Homo sapiens: one gene and its partner. The protein of the gene in region 1 interacts with the protein of each later gene in a pairwise test. Each region holds a gene or a part of one and is shown on either strand. Other genes may lie near its edges.

Region 1 (3,584 bases):
GCTGCATTTACCAGCATCCCACCTCTATTTCTGAACCTTCGACACTTTTAATGTCCGTATTTCCACAGACGGTCGGTTTCAAGGCCCTCTAGGCTTTTCATGTTGTGATCCTCAGGACTCTCCCACCCTCCACTCATCCCCTGATTCTAAAACTACTTCCGCATGTTTAGCTGTGTGTTACACCAGCACCCCACTCCTGGTACCACAATCCACATTCTTTTTTTCTATTGTTTTGAGACGGAGTCTTGCTCTGTCACCCAGGCTGGAGTGCAGTGGTGCGATCTCCACTCACTGCTGCCACCTCTGCCTCCCGGGTTCAAGCAATTCTCTGCCTCAGCCTCCCGAGTAGCTGGGATTACAGGCGCCCGCCACCACGCCCAGCTAATTTTTGTATTTTTAGGAGAGACAGGGTTTCACCATCTTGGCCAGGCTGGTCTTGAACCCCTGACCTTGTGATCCACCCGCCTCGGCCTCCCAGAGTGCAGGGATTACAGGCGTGAGCACCCAGCCTCCATGTCATTTTTCTAATGCTGCTGTCACAATTTACTAAAAGCTTAGCAGCTTACAACATAGTTCTGTGGAAGTCCAGAAGTCCGGTGGACTCAACCAGGTTCTCTGCTCAGGGTCTCATGGCTGAAATCACAGTGTTCGCGACGGCAGGCTCCTCTTAGGAGACTCCGGGGAAGAACCTGCTTCTGGGCTTGGTCAGGTGTTGGCAGAATCTGGCTGCTTGTGGCTGTTGGACTGAGGTTTCCTTGTGCGGCGTCCTCCATCTTCAAGCCAACAATGGGACACTGAATCCTTCCTGTGCTTTGAATCTCTCTGTCTTCTGTGTTCCATTCCTGCTTTTTTTCTTTTTTTTTTAAGATGGAGTCTTGCTCTGTCAGCCAGGCTGGAGTGCAGTGGCGTGATCTCAGCTCACTGTAACCTCTGCCTCCGGTGTTTAAGCGATTCTCGTGTCTCAGCCTCCTGAGTAGTTGGGATTACAGGCGCCCGCCACTACGCCTGGCTAATTTTTCTATTTTTGGTACAGACGGGGTTTCACCATATTGGTCAGGCTGGTCTCCAACTCCTGGCCTCAAGTGATCCACCCACCTCGGCCTCCCAAGGTGCTGGGATTATAGGCATGAGCCACTGCGTCCGGCCCCATTTCTGCTTTTAAGGGCTCATGTGATTACACTGGGCCCACCCAAATAAGATAGACTCTCTATTTTAAGTTCAACTGATTAATAGTGTCAATTACATCTGTAAATTCCTTTTGTGGGACAATGAGGGCTGAGGCTGGGACCATCTCAGCCACTTGGCCCCCAACCGCTCCATCCTTGGCCACCCCGTCCTGTTCCCAGAGCCTGCCTGGCACAGCTGGCAGCCATGGATGAGCTGGAGGGAGGAGTTTGATGCTAGGGGTGGGCACACCTGTGCTAGGGGCAGCTGCACCTTGGGAGGACCCCAAGACCCTCCCCGCAAACTCACCTCGGCCGCCCTGCGGTGGTCTTCACCATTGCCCAGCATGCGTGCATCCACACCGAGACAGCGGAGGCTCCGTGCCAGCCCCTGCAGCATGTTGTCACACACCACACGGAAGGCCCTGGCCGGAATCTGAGGGGCAGCGCCCTCAGACACAGCCACAGCCACAGGGACCTGCAGTGAGGCCCTGGTCAGCAGTCCCACGGTCACCCCCCAGCCCCTCACAGCCTCAGAGAGCCAGGGCCCTGAGGCTGTGTGGCCAGCACTCTGTCTCTGTTTTATCTTCAAAAGATAAAACTGTGTGTGCTGTGCATAAAACAGCAGAAACGCAGACAAAATGCAGTGAAACCACCCCTGGGGGGCTCTAGTGCTCATGCTGGGGGGGCTCCACGTGTGTGTCTGGGGTGGCGTGTGTGCCCAGAGAGGGGTGGGGATCACGGGGAGGGGGCTAGATAGAGAGGGGTGGGGATCACAAGGAGGGGGTTAGATAGAGAGGGGTGGGGATCACGAGGAAGGTGCTAGATAGAGAGGGGTGAGGATCACAAGGAGGGGGTTAGACAGAGAGGGGTGGGGATCATGGGGAGGGGGCTAGATAGAGAGGGGTGGGGATCACGGGGAGGGGTTAGATAGAGAGGGGTGGGGATCACAAGGAGGGGGCTAGATAGAGAGGGGTGGGGATCACGGGGAGGGGTTAGATAGAGAGGGGAGGGGGAGGGGGCTAGATAGAGAGGGGTGGGGATCACGGGGAGGGGGCTAGATGCTGCCTTGGGCCATGGGAGGGGCCTGCCAGGCCAAGTATCAGGAGGGGACTGGGGCACTCAGGGGCACGGCTGCCTCCTGAGCAGTGACCCCCCAGGCAAGCGCAGCCCCCGTGACAGTCATGCAGGAGGTTCACCAGGACTTTGCTCCCCTCTCGCTCCAGGAGCTGGGCCCCCTCCACACGCTCTGACCCAGTGGCCTTGTCTCCATGCAGGTCCTTGGTTTATGGACAGGGATCTCCTTCCCCAAGAATGCTGACAAACGGACCCTGCGGGGCTTCACCCACCTGCCTGGGTGCGGCCGGTGCTGACGCTTTCTGCAGGCCGGGTGGCTTCCGTGCCCCTGGTCTCTCTCTGTGCCTGGGCCTCCGGCTCCCAGCCAGGTCCTCCGACAGGTGGAAGCGGGCGGGCTCTCTGCACAGGGCTTGGTGCACCTCCAGCAGGCAGTAGGCGTCGGCAGCTGTGTGGGGAGTCGGCCTCAGCCTCCCGGGACAGAGGGCGGGAGGGGCGTGAGGAGGGGTCACTCCCACCCGCCGCACCGCACACCTGCGTAGATGACCTGCTCCTCGCAGAGCGGCCTCCGGTCCCAGTTGGACAGCTGCTGCGTCTTGTCCAGGGCTGTGCCCAGCACCTGCTGCACCAGGAGGCTCAGGCCCCTCAGCTCCCTGGCCCTGTCCACGGCTGGGGCTGGCACGCTCGCCACCCGCATCTGCTAAGACAGTGCCCTGCAGGGTAACGCGTCTGGCCCTGGCGGCAGCACAGTCACCGTGCCCACTCACACCAGCCCTGCGGGGGCTCTGGAGGAGGCCCCGCCCCCTCCACCAGCGGCCCCCACAGCAGAGACGGGGAGAAGGAGCGGACACATCCGAGGAGAGGCTCCACGTGGGGGTCCCAGGCTGCAGGCACTGCACACCAGGGCCAGCTCCGGGGGCCCTGGTCAGCAGTCCCACGGTAACCCCGCCCAGCCCCTCACAGCCTCAGAGAGCCCGGGCCCTGAGTCTGTGTGGCCAGCTCTCTGTCTCTGTTTTATCTTCAGAAGAGGAGCACTGGGTGTGCCGTGCATAAAACAGCAGAAACGCAGACAAAATGCAGCGAAACCACCCCCGGGGGGCTCTAGTGCTCATGCTAGGGGCGCTCCACGTGTGTGTCTGGGGTGGCGTGTGTGCCCAGAGAGGGGTGGGGATCACGGGGAAGGTGCTAGATAGAGAGGGGTGGGGATCACGGGGAAGGTTCTAGATAGAGAGGGGTGGGGATCACGAGGAGGGGCTAGATAGAGAGGGGTGGGGATCACGGGGAGGGTTCTAGATAGAGAGGGGTGGGGATCACGGGGAAGGTTCTAGATAGAGAGGGATGGGGATC
Region 2 (3,584 bases), on another chromosome or scaffold:
TTTTTAGCCATCAAAGAGATTTTTTTTTACAAGTTTCAGATTTGTATTAAGCATACTTAATATCAACCTTTGTCATATGTGATAACATCCTTTATGTATTTTATGAGACTCTGATTTTTAAAATATCTATTTCTATGTATTTCTTGCATAATATAATAATGACCAAAAATTCCTATGATTATGCCACTTAAGCACATTGTGGGAAATTAAGTTACTAAAGAGAGTGCAAGAAAGAAATGATTTATGAAATGAAAACTGGTTGAATATCACAAGAATATTTGTATGTGTATAGACTGGACACACAGAGTTTCTTGTTTCTATTTGACCTACCTGATTTCTAACACCAATTAAATGTTAAACCTCTTATTGCTGAGATTAATTATAATTTAGTGCAACAAAATCCAGGACTTTTTACTCCTTTATTAATGGCATTTATAAAATTAGGTCTTCCAAAGAACAAAAGCAGCATCATAAAAATGCAGTTTTATTAGTTACAATAAAAAGGTGAGTCATATTATACATAAAATATTAACCCCTTGTTTGGGGCCACTTATTGAAACTCAACAATAAACTTTATTTAAATTTTCTTCCAAATTATAAGGCAATTATTCAGTATTGAGACTAAAGAGCACTTCGCTCAGTACCAAAGTTTCGGGATTAAAAAAACAGTCTTGACTCTTTAGGTTCTCACCCCAGAGTGAGCTATATAACCTCTCTGGACCTCAGTTTCTTCTTTTGAAAAATGTAGCACCTATACATCACAGACTTTCAATAAGGATTAAATGAGTTAATACATGTATCAGGCATACAACAAAGGCAGGAAACAGTGCTAATTAAATGTTTGCTATTGGCCATTATCATAGATTGTATTTAAGATAACAGAAAATACAATTTTCTAAGGCATTTGTATTTTGCTTTAAAATTGAACCAGACCTAGAAGAATTAGAGTAATCTGTTAGCAGAAAATACAGTTTTGCTATTTCAGACTTTGGTGAATTATTCATTTGCTAATCTGGTTAAGCAAGCTGGAAGCACAGTTCTGTTTTTTATGAGTATTTTGTGTCTTTGAAATTACCTGACTTAAATATTCTAATCCAGGTGGACAGTTTAATGGAGGCTGTGGCGCTGGCATCCATGGTACCCCTGCAGCTCCAACTGGCTGATTATATACTGGCTGATTATACACTGGCTGATTTGGGACAGGAAAGCCAGCTGGGCCAGGACCTGAATGGCCGGCTGGTGGGGGTGGGTAGCTGACCTGGGGCCCAGGGTAGCCACTATATCCTGGAGGTCCTGAAATACAAACAAGTGAAATGATTTGTAACTGCACCAAAAATGGAATTGTCAACCTTTTTAGGGTTATGCCATCTATCTATAAGTTGACATTTCAGCGTAGACATCTGTATCTGTGATGTTTAATACGCTTTTCTCTTTCTGAGATTTTTCAATGAAATATCTGTGGTTGCACATCCACTTCTATTTGGATGATAGTATGCGGTGAATAGCCTTACCCTTACCATTCAAAACTCAGAAGGAAAATATGCTTTAATATCTGAGAAAATGAAAATAAATAACCATGATCTAGAGTCACCTACATAAAGATTCTGGCAAGCCTTCAAGGGAAACAAACACGTCATTGGTAGAAGGCCCAAAATAATGGCTTTGAGTCAGCATTTCTAGGGCCAAAGTATCTTGTGAAAAATGATAATTCTGAAATTCTAGCAAATGCCTTATAATATATGTATAGAACTGGGGGTAGTTTTGCCCCCTCTCTGCCAGGGATATTTGACAAGATCTGCAGACTTTTTTTGGTCACAACTGGAGGGGAAGATAATACTGCATCTGGTGGGTAGAGGCCAGGGCTGCTGCTACACATCTTAAAAGAGCCAGAACAGCTCCCTAAAAATGAAGAATTGTCCAGCCCAAAATATTATAGTGCCACTGTTGAAGGTGAAAGCACGTCATTTCTTTCTTTCCATTTTTTTTTTTTTTGAGACAGAGTCTTGCTCTGTCGCCCAGGCTGGAGTGCGGTGGCATCATCTCTGCTCACTGCAAGCTCCACCTCCTGGGTTCACACCATTCTCCTGCCTCAGCCTCCTAAGTAGCTGGAACTACAGGCGCCCACCACCACGCCCAGCTAATTTTTTGTATTTTTTAGTAGAGACGGGGTTTCAGTGTGTTAGCCAGGATGGTCTCGATCTCCTGACCTCGTGATCTGCCCACCTCAGCTTCCCAAAGTGCTGGGATTACAGGCGTGAGCCACCGCGCCCATTCGTTTAGTACACGTCATTTCTTTTAGTACATTCCAGATGCCTGCTTGGGTTAATCCTTTGCCTTATGTTTTAATCCATAATGTATTGCTTTCCTAAGTCCTTCTTCATTAAAATAAAATTCTATTATAATATTTAGGTTAGAAATTTAAATTTCACAATTTAACATCCTTTGGTCTCTGGAAAATATAATTTGAGAAACAAGGATGGCAAAAAATTGTAAGAGGCAGAAATTTAATAACAGTAAATGTACTTCATATTCTCTGCGAATGTGTGATTACAATGAAGATTTATATACCTGTTTGTATGGTCCACAGTGTAGCAATTCCATAGCAGTGGAATACAATTTCAAAGGACTGTGTTTCTCAATATTTTAACATTAAAGCCTATGCAAAATGTAATACTTAGAATAGGAAATTTACAAATTCTTTTAAATGGATCATTTATGATAAAATTCATTTGCCCTTCAAAAATAAGGCTTAGAAAAACAGAATAAACCTCACAATAATGCATCATAAATATAGCTTTTATAATTTATTCCTTTATGATGAATGAATATTTACAAATGATCATAATGTGACTGGCTGTGTTGTAGAATATGAGGATACAATTCTCAAGGAGGCAGCCTGCTGTCAGAGAGCTTACAGTCAACTTCTGGGAGAAAGAAAACACATTTAAAACAAAAAAAATTCATATGGATGTGATGGAGAGAATGTATGCGAGCGAGGGCAGGGTATGAGGCAGTTACTTTGGGTAAATATAATTTATATCAAGGTCTAAAAGATGAGAAGAGAAAAGCTTTATATGAAGATTAGTGATAAATGCTTCAGGAGGAAAGAAAGGCAAATAGAATACCTCTGACTTTGTAATGAATTTGACAGGCGTAAAAGAGAGAGGAATGTCATAAGAAAGAAGACGACTAGGAAAGGCTGTTAGCAAAGCAACAGGAAGCTGTTCATCAAAGGAGGCCTTAGTAAGGAGTCTGGATTTGGTTCCAATTATGATTGGCAAGTACTGGAGGAATTTAAGCAGAAGAATGAGTTCCATGGTCTTATCTATATCTTACAAAATTTTCAGGAGTGGAAAAGCATTAGAATTTACAATGGAAAACACAGATGCAATCCCTGCCCATCATTGTTTAATGAGAGAGACAACTTTATATCCCCACTTATTCTAGGGAGCTATAATACCAGTGTAATTAATTGATTCATTAGAATTGGAGATAAATGCTTTCAAGTAAGAGACCACGGTTTTATGACTAGAGATGCCAAAGGTCGCTATTGAGATGGGAAGAGAAAAAGGGAAGGAGCAGGA

Evidence for each region.
Region 2: the proteins of EXD3 (region 1) and PLSCR1 interact in a two-hybrid assay, tested with the Homo sapiens proteins (one large-scale study listed by BioGRID and IntAct).

Annotation. Positions count from the first base shown.
Region 1 is NC_000009.12:137,346,598-137,350,181, forward strand, and holds part of EXD3 (exonuclease mut-7 homolog), read right to left. Parts: intron 2,938-3,584; coding exon of another isoform or gene 2,935-2,937; coding exon 2,772-2,934; intron 2,686-2,771; coding exon 2,513-2,685; intron 1,642-2,512; coding exon 1,474-1,641; intron 1-1,473. UniProt on the Homo sapiens protein: Possesses 3'-5' exoribonuclease activity. Required for 3'-end trimming of AGO1-bound miRNAs.
Region 2 is NC_000003.12:146,527,539-146,531,122, forward strand, and holds part of PLSCR1 (phospholipid scramblase 1), read right to left. Parts: intron 1,294-3,584; coding exon 1,076-1,293; intron 1-1,075. UniProt on the Homo sapiens protein: Catalyzes calcium-induced ATP-independent rapid bidirectional and non-specific movement of phospholipids (lipid scrambling or lipid flip-flop) between the inner and outer leaflet of the plasma membrane resulting in collapse of the phospholipid asymmetry which leads to phosphatidylserine externalization on the cell surface.